Linked DNA regions of Homo sapiens: region 2 is linked to region 1. Evidence: fine-mapped expression QTL. A gene starts in region 1. The other region holds a variant in brackets. All regions are shown on one strand. Distances are between the middles of the regions. Region 1 holds the start of YJU2 (YJU2 splicing factor homolog). Region 2 has its middle 7.1 kb from the start of SHD.

The links. PIP is the estimated chance that this variant, and not a neighbour inherited with it, causes the effect. A credible set is the group of variants that fine-mapping cannot tell apart.
Region 2: its variant is the best candidate, but not a certain one, in a credible set for the expression of YJU2 in whole blood (TOPMed, PIP 0.51).

Annotation. Positions count from the first base shown.
Region 1 is chr19:4,244,701-4,249,085 of GRCh38, forward strand. It overlaps YJU2 (YJU2 splicing factor homolog), which reads left to right and starts at 2,380. Exons shown (of 8, transcript NM_018074.6): 1 at 2,380-2,470. The coding sequence starts at 2,447. RefSeq lists enhancers at 1,440-2,211, 1,970-2,109, 2,450-2,539.
Region 2 is chr19:4,269,986-4,274,370 of GRCh38, forward strand. No RefSeq gene overlaps it. Among named protein-coding and RNA genes, the nearest start is that of SHD, 7.1 kb to the right of the region's middle. The variant G/A (reference allele first, on the strand shown) is at 1,640.

The sequences.
Region 1 (4,385 bases):
TCCAGACCAGCTTGGGCAACATGGCGAAACCCTGTCTCTACAAAAACTGCCAAATATTAGCCAGGTGTGGTGGTACCTATAGTTCCAGCTAACTCGGAAGGCTGAGGTGGGGGATCGCCTGAGCCGGGAAGTGGAGGCCACAGAGAGCCATGATTGCGTTACTGCACTCCAGCCTAGGTGACAGAGCGAGACCCTGTCTCAAAAAGTATACATACATATCCTTGCCATTTTAGTGCCTAAGTACATTACACCATGACTATAACCATATTTTCTTTTTTTTTTTTTGAGATGGAGTTTCACTCTTGTCACCCAGGCTGGAGTGCAATGGCGCCATATCGACTCACCGCAACCTCTGCCTCCCAGGTTCAAGTGATTCTCCTGCCTCAGCCTCCCAAGCAGCTGGGATTACAGGCATGCACCACCATGCCCGGCTAATTTTGTATTTTTAGTAGAGACAAGATTTCTTCATGTTGGTCTGGTTGGTCTTGAACTCTCGACCTGCACCACCGCACCTGGCTAATTTTGCATTTTTAGTAGAGACGGGGTTTCTCCGTGTTGGTCTGATTGGTCTTGAACTCCTGACCTCAGGTGATTCGCCCACGTCGGCCTCCCAAAGTGCTGGGATTACAGGCGTAAGCCACCATGCCCGGTATCTTTTTCTTTTTTTTCTCTTTTTTTTTTTTTTTGAGATGGAGTCTCACTCTGTCGCCCAGGCCACAGGGCAGCGGCACAATCTCGATCTCAGTTCACTGCAACCTCAGCCTCCTGGGTTCATGCAATTCTCCTGCCTCAGCCTCCCAAGTAGCTGGGATTACAGGTTCCCGCCACCACGCCCGGCTAATTTTTGTATTTTTAGTAGAGATGGGGTTCCACCATGGTGGCCATGGTGACCAGGCTGGTCTCGAACTCCTGACCTCAGGTGATCCACCCTCCTTGGCCTCCCAAAGTGCTGGGATTACAGGCATGAGCCACCGCGCCTGGCGACTATAACGATCTTAAAAGCATACATTGCTATGCAATATCAGGACATCTGGACCTTCCATTGTTGTAGTAGTGTGTCCTCCTAGGCATTTGTAAGACGTTTTCTCAATTGTAAACATCTTATGACCCTGGCTCGTGACTGGCAGCGAATGTGCCTTGTTAATTTTAAGATGGAGTTGATTTTTGGCCAGGTGCAGTGGCTCATGCCTGTAATCCCAGCACTTTGGGAGGCAGAGGCGAGCAGATCACCTGAGGTCAGGAGTTCGAGACCTGCCTGGCCAAAATGGTGAAACCCCATCTCTACTAAAACTACAAAAATTAGGCAGGTGTGGTGGTGCGTGCCTGTAATCCCAGCTACTCGGGAGGTTGAGACAGGAGAATCACTTGAATCCTGAGGTGGAGGTTGCAGTGAGCCAAGATCGCACCACTGGAGGCAGAGGTTGCAGTGAGCCAAGATCGCACCACTGCCCGTCAGCCTGGGCAACAGAGCAAGACTCCTCAAAAGATAAATAAATAAACAAACAATTGCCACAGCAACATCAAGAAGTTACCCTATATGGTCTAAAAAAGGGAGGTATGAATAATCCACCCCTTGTTTAGCATATCATCAATAAATCACCATAAACATGGGCAACCACCAGCCCTTGGGGCTGCTTTGTCTGTGAAGTAGCCATTCTTTTATTCATCTACTTTCTAAATAAACTTGTTTTTGCTTTGCACTGTGGACTCGCCCTGAATTCCTTCTTGCACGAGATCCAAGAACCCTCTCCTGGGGTCTGGATCCGGACCCCTTTCCTGGAACAATCTGACACAGAGGAAACGTCCATGAAAGGTGGGGAGGAGGCTGGGGAAGGAGGCTGGGGAAGGAATGGGATGGGAAGTCCTCGTTAAGGGGAAGGCACAGGTGGGCAATGGAGGGACATTTGGGAGACACTGCGTATGTTTAGGAAGTTGGTTTGGAGCCTGATCTTTAAGTCAATGTCTGTGACTCAAGAGTCGTCCAGGGTCCTCTTAAGTCACCCTATGTGTGGCCCCAACCCCATGTGAGAGTTGCGGGCCCAGGAACGATGTGTGGATTCCCAGAGCCCAGAATACAAGGCAGGCGCATAATACATATTTGCTGAATAAAAGAATGAAGAACAAGAGGTCACGTTACAAAATTTTAACGAGCCGCTGCCCGCTTCTAGGGGGCGCAGCGCACTATACAAAATTCTCCAATTCCACATGGCTCCCGGAATCCTTATTTCGCGCTACTCAGGTTGCAACTCCGGAGGGAAGACGCTGGGACTTCCAGCTTGATAGGCGGGGATTGGAACCAATGAAAGAGGTCTGCTGTGTATGCTGCAGCCAATAATAGCGGCCGAAGGAAGTGACGTTTGCGGAAGTAAGGCTTCCGTCGGAAAAGCTCGATAATTACCCAGCCTAACCATTTCTCAGGTGCTTGCGAGGTGATCAGAAGGCAAAGATGTCGGAGCGAAAAGTATTAAACGTAAGTGTTGGGCGACTGGGGCTTTTCAATCGGAGCAGGACATCCCGGAACTCCGGGAGAGGGAGGAGCTTCCTGAGATCTCTTCTTTGGAACCCTTCTTTCCCAGCGGCCTTCCGCGAGATGGGGCTTCCCAGACTCCTCCCTAGACTCCTCCCCATCGCCTTCCGTCGGGGGGGTGGGCCTTCGCTAAGTCTCCCTTCTGGGCTGGGGTGTAGTTAGTCACCTGCGGGGCGTGGCTTGGGCTTTTACCCAATCACCACCAGATAGGGTTTTTTTTCTGGGGGCGGGGCTTCCTTAAATGCTGGCGGCCGTGTTTTGCCCTCTTCTTGAGGGGCGTGGCTCTGAGAAGCCCCGCCCCACTTGGGGACTGTAACCAATCGTGTACTTTGGGTGGGGTGGGGTGGGGTGGCGCGTGTGTGTGTGTGTGTGTGTGTGTGTGTGTGTGTGTGTGTGTGTGTGTGTGTGTGTGTGTGTGTGTGTGTGTGTGTGTGTGTGTGTGTGTGTGTGTGTGTGTGTGTGTGTGTGTGTTTTGTTTTTTTTACTGGGGTCTGGTCATGCAGATAACCTCTGCCTTACAGTGGCCAAGATTTTACTGGGGTCTGGTCATGCAGATAACCTCTGCCTGACAGTGGCCAAGATTCCAGACTCCCAGAAGAAAAGCAGAGGTTCAGTATAAACTATACTGTTGGCACACTTCTGTTTTTTGGTTTTTTGAGATGGAGTTTTGCGCTTGCTTCCCAGGCTGGAGTGCAGTGGCACGTTCTTGGCTCACTGCAGCTTCTGCCTCCTGGGTTCAAGCGATTCTCCTGCCTCAGCCTCCTGAGTAGCTGGGACTGCAGGCGCCCGCCACCATGCCTGGTTAATTTTTTTTGTATTTTAGTAGAGATGAGATTTCACCATGTTGCCCAGGGTGGTTTTGAACTCTTGATCTCAGGCATTCCACCCACCTCATACTCCCAAAGTGCTGGAATTACAGGCGTGAGCCACCGCGCCCGGCCCCACGCAGGTCTTTCTAGGAGAGCAGTCTCAGGCTTGCTGTAGGAACTCCTGGGAAACAGGAGCCCTGGGATACAAAGGGAGTGTGAGTATGGATTATGACAGATACCTCCACTGCACCACTGGAAAATAAAGCACTTTGTGTTTGGAGCACCTACTGGGTGCCAGACACTGCAAAGAGCACTTTATCCCCCTTGCCTCAAGGAATGCGTGCAAAGACTCTTGGAGACAGAGGACAGTGTGCGCATTTCACAGAGGAGTAAACTGAGCCCTGCAGGTTTCAGCTCCTCAGGATTCAGATCCAGGGAGATGACTCTGTAGGAAACGGATGTAGTATCGTGATTGGGAGGCTGAGCTAACAGAGTCCTGGTTTACCCTCTACAGAATTGCTGGGGAGTTGGGACTCCTCGGGGAACTCGGTCTCCTGCCTGAACAACAGAAGTGCTAAGCAAAGCTTAACCTCTACAAAGGGCAGGGCATGATGGCTCACGTGTGTAATACCAGCTCTTTGGGAGGCCAAGGCAGGTGGATCACCTGAGGTCAGGAGTTCGAGACTAGCCTGGCCAACATGGTGAAACCCCATCTCTACTAAAAATACAAAAATTAGCGGGGAGTGGTGGTGGGCGCCTGTAATCCCAGCTACTGTAGAGGCTGAGGCAGGAGAATCGCTTGAACCCAGGAGGCGGAGGTTGCAGTGAGCCAAGATCGCGCCACTGGACTCCAGCCTGGGCAACAAGAGCAAAACTCCGTCTCAGAACAAAAACAAAAACAAACCCTGGCTTTTTAGAGCTTCCCGTGTAGACAGCATTTCATGTGTATTGTCATGACTGGTATTTAGGAGAATTAAATGCGTCCTGTATAACTCCACTAGGAGAGAGTCAGGAAGCTTGTGCCTGGCCTCCCTCTGACTGTACTGAGT
Region 2 (4,385 bases), 25 kb after region 1:
TCTGCCTCAGCCTCCCCAGCAGCTGGGATTACAGGTGCCTGCCACCACGCCCAGCTAATTTTTGTGTTTTTAGTAGAGACGGGTCTCACCATCTTGGCCAGGCTGGTCTTGAACTCCTGACCTCAGGTGATCTGACTGCCTCAGCCTCCCAAAGTGCAGGGATTACAGGCGTGAGACACTGCACCAGCCTGGAATCTTTTAAAGTGAACAATATGAACCTTCTTTGAGTAGGCAGTTCCATTTCTGGCTGTCTGTTCTAAGAGGTATTTGCCCACATTCATAAGGAAACACCCACGAGGAGGTTTGTCGTGACACTGTGTTTAGCAGCAACATTATGGGGAACGAACCCAATGTCCCCAGTAGGTGAAGGCTGAACTCTGGCATAAATAATGGAATTCCAGCCGGGTGTGGTGGCTCAGGCCTGGAATCCCAGCTACTTGGGAGGCTGAGGTGGGAGGATCACTTGAGCCCGGGAGATTGAGGCTGCAGTGAGGTGTAACTGTACCACTGCACTCCAGCCTTGGTGAGAGACCAAGATCCTGCCTGAAAAAGGGGGAGGGGGGTGGGGAGCTAGGCCCAGGACAGGAACTGTGGCATGTTCCTGTAATCCCAGGACTTTGGGGGGCTGAGGCAGGAGGGTTGGTTGAAGACAGGAGGTCGAGTCCAGACTGGGCAACATGGCCAGACCGTTTCTCAATTTGTCTTTTTTTAAAGAAAGGTGGGGCACGGTGGCTCACGCATGTAATCCCAGCACTTTGGGAGGCCACGGCGGGCAGATCACCTGAGGTCAGGAGTTCAAGACCAGCCTGGCCAACATGGTGAGACTCCCACCACCCCCACTAAAAATAAAAAAATTAGTCAGATGTGGTGGCGGGCACCTGTAATCCCAGCTAATTGGTAGGCTGAGGCAGGAGGATCACTTGAACCTGGAAGGTGGAGGTTGCAGTGAGCTGAGATCATGCCACTGCACTCCAGCCTGGGCAACAGAGTGAGATTCCATCTCAAAAAATAATTAATTAAAAAAAAAGATGCTACAATTTGCCTTCAAAGGGGCTGCGCTCTACATACTCAACAAGGATGGGACTCACTGGCTTTATGAGTAGAAAGCTCTGGCTGGGAAGTTCCCCTCCTCGGCGGGGGCAGCAGAAGGAGTTGGCAGAGGGAAGGAAGGAACCTGTGTTTATCAAATGTTCCCTGAGCATTTGGCAGAAACAAAGTTGAACTCCCACTTCCAACACCCGTTCTTATTTTAATTTTAATTTTTTTTTTTTTTGAGACAGCATCTCACTCTATCACCCCCGCTGGAGTGCAGTGGCAGGATCTCGGCTCACTGCAACCTCCGCCTCCCGGGTTCAAGCGATTCTCCTGCCTCAGCCTCCAGAGTAGCTGGGATGACAGGCACGCGCCACCCTGCCTGGCTTAATTTTTGTATTTTTAGTAGAGATGGGGTTTTGCCATGTTGCCAGGCTGGTCTCGAACTCCTGACCTCAAGTGATTCGCCCGCCTCAGCTCCCAAACTGCTGGGATTACAGGCGTGAGCTACCGCACCCGGCCCCCAAAAAACTTTTATGTATTATATATTTTTACAATAACATATAAATAATGTATACCGAAGGTGGTGAAAATAAAGCAGGTGAGT[G/A]TGTTCTAAGGAGATGCAGAGGGGATGCCTTGGGAACGTGTTTATTGCCCATCTCTCCCTCTGTTTGTTTTCTGGTGCTGCATAACAAATTATACCAAAACTGAACAACTTAAAAACAACATAGAGCTGGGTGTGGTTTCATTGGGTCTCCCGCTTTAAGGTTTAGCAAGAATGCAATCAAGACAGAGGCCAGGCTGGGCGCAGTGGCTCATGGCTGTAATCCCACCACTTTCACAGGCCGAGGCGGGCGGATCACTTGAGGTCATGAGTTCAAGACCAGCCTGGCCAACATGGCAAAACCCTGTCACTACAAAAAAGTACAAAAATTAGTTGGGCATGGTGGTACATGCCTGTAATTCCAGCTACTTGGGAGGCTGAGACAGGAGAATCACTTGAACCCAGGAGGCAGAGGTTGCAGTGAGCCAAGATTGCACCACTGCACTCCAGCCAGGGGGACAGAGCGAGACTCCCGTCTCAAAGAAAAAAAAAAAAAAAAGACACAGGCCCAGGCTGGGGTGTCATCTGAAGGCTCAACTGGGGAAGGACCTGCTGCCAAACCTTTGTGGTTGTTGACAGAATTCAGTCCCTCATGGCTGTTGGCCAGAAAACACTCTCAGTTTCTTACCTACACAGACCTTGTCTGCAGCTTGTGTCTTTGTCCATTTGCTGCTGCTTTCACAGAACACCACAGACTGGGTAAATTATAAACAGTAGAAGTTTATTCGGGCCGGGCGCAGCGGTTCACACCTGTAATCCCAGCACTTTCAGAGGCTGAGGTAGGTGTATCACCTGAGGTCAGGAGTTTGAGACCAGCCTGCCCAACATGGTGAAACTCTGTCTCTACTAAAAATACAAAAATTAGCCGGGCATGGGGCAGGTGCCTGTAATCCCAGCTACTCCAGAGGCCGAGGCAGGAGAATAACTTGAACCCGGGAGGCAGAGGTTGCAGTGAGCCAAGATTATGCCATTGCACTCCATCCAGCTTGGACAACAGAGTGAGACTCCATCTCAAAAAAATTGGTGCACCCCAGCACCCCAAAACCAGCTGGCACATCGTGGGTGCTCGCAAATGGGTTGAGGGGGCATCACCCCATTCCCCAATGAGGAAACAGGCTCAGGGAGCCCCAGGTTTCACCTCCTCCCCTCTCACACCCCACTCTTTCATACACCACTGGAATTTTATTTTTATTTCTTTTTTTTTTCCCCTGAGAAGCTTTGTTCTCTCACCCTGTGTCCTGGGGGCAATTCTGCTCTCAGCCCCCAGTTCTCTCCTGGGGGTTCCCAGGACTGAGGGAGTAGAGGGGCAGGCACAGCCATGCATCGGGCTCTGTCCCTCCTGACCAGCGGGGGACCCCTCCCTGCCCTGCCCCACCTCTCAGGGCCCCCTACCCTCACCCTCTGAAGCCTGCCCTTCCCCTATCCCTGCCGACAGTACCCGTTCCCCACCAGCCCGCGTCTGTCATCCTGTCTTCGGGAGCTGTCAGCCTTCATCTGAGATCTCCATCAACTCCTCCGGGGCTGCCTGGCTGCTGGAGCACATCAGAGGGATGGGGAGGAGGGGCGATGGGGGCCCCTTCTGCTGGAGCCCACTGCCGCCCCAGCCTGGGCTTACAGGAGAAGAGGGGCCATGCCATTTCCCCAGCTTTTGCCAGTTCCAGTGTGAACTTGGGGCTCCCTGAGCCTGTTTCCTTATCTGGGAATGGGGTGACACCACCCACTCAGTCCACAAACACCCCCCGGGCACACGCTCTGTTGCTGCCCCATTTACAGGTAAGGGAGACTCCTCGACCTCCAGGGTGAGGGAGGGACAGGGCCTGGGTATGAAGCTCCAGGCTCCGAGGCTACGCCTTTGGTCACCCACCCCACTGCAACCCCAAGAGCTGGGCTGTGCCTGCGTGTCAGACTGGAGCCCTGGAAGGGCTGGATCATGCCTCCCCCATCAGGTAGGGGCCCCTAGAAGGAAGGCTCGCTTCTCCTCCAGCAGACTGGGACCTTGTAAGTTAGTTAGGGCCATGCCTCCTGTGTTGGACTGGGCCCTTGAAATTTACACCATACCTCCCCCATCAGACTGGGGACGCTTGAAGTTTGGACTATGCCTCCCTCATCAGACTGGGGACTCTTGAAGGCAGGCCTATGTCTCCTCCATTACTCTGGGACCCTGGAAGTCAAGACTATGTCTCCTGCATTAGACAGGGGACCGTTGAAGGTTGAACCTGCCTCCCCCATCAGACTGAAGATAGGTTCACGTCTCCTTCCTCAGAGTGGGAACCCCTCAAGGTAGGGCCATATCTCTCCCATCAAATGGAAGCTCCTGAAGTCAGAGCCGCAACTCTTCCATCAGACTGGGGGCTTCTGTGGACAAGGCCATGCCTCTGCCATCAGACCGTGAGTTAAGAAAGGCAGAGCTGGCCAGGTGCAGTGGCTCACGCCTGTAATCCCAGCACTTTGGGAGGCCGAGGCGGGCGGATCACGAGATCAGGAGATCGAGACCATCCTGGCTAACACAATGAAGCCAAGATTGCGCCACTGCACTCCAGCTTGGACGACAGAGCGAAACTCTGTCTCAAAAAAAAAAAAAAAAAAAAGACAGAGCTGGCTAGGCACAGTGGCTCATGCCTGTAATCCCAGCACTTTGGGAGGCCAAGGCGGGCGGATCACAAGGTCAGGAGTTCAACACCAGCCTGGCCAACATGGTGAAACCCCGTCTCTACTAAAAGTACAAAACTTAGCCAGGCATGGTGGCATG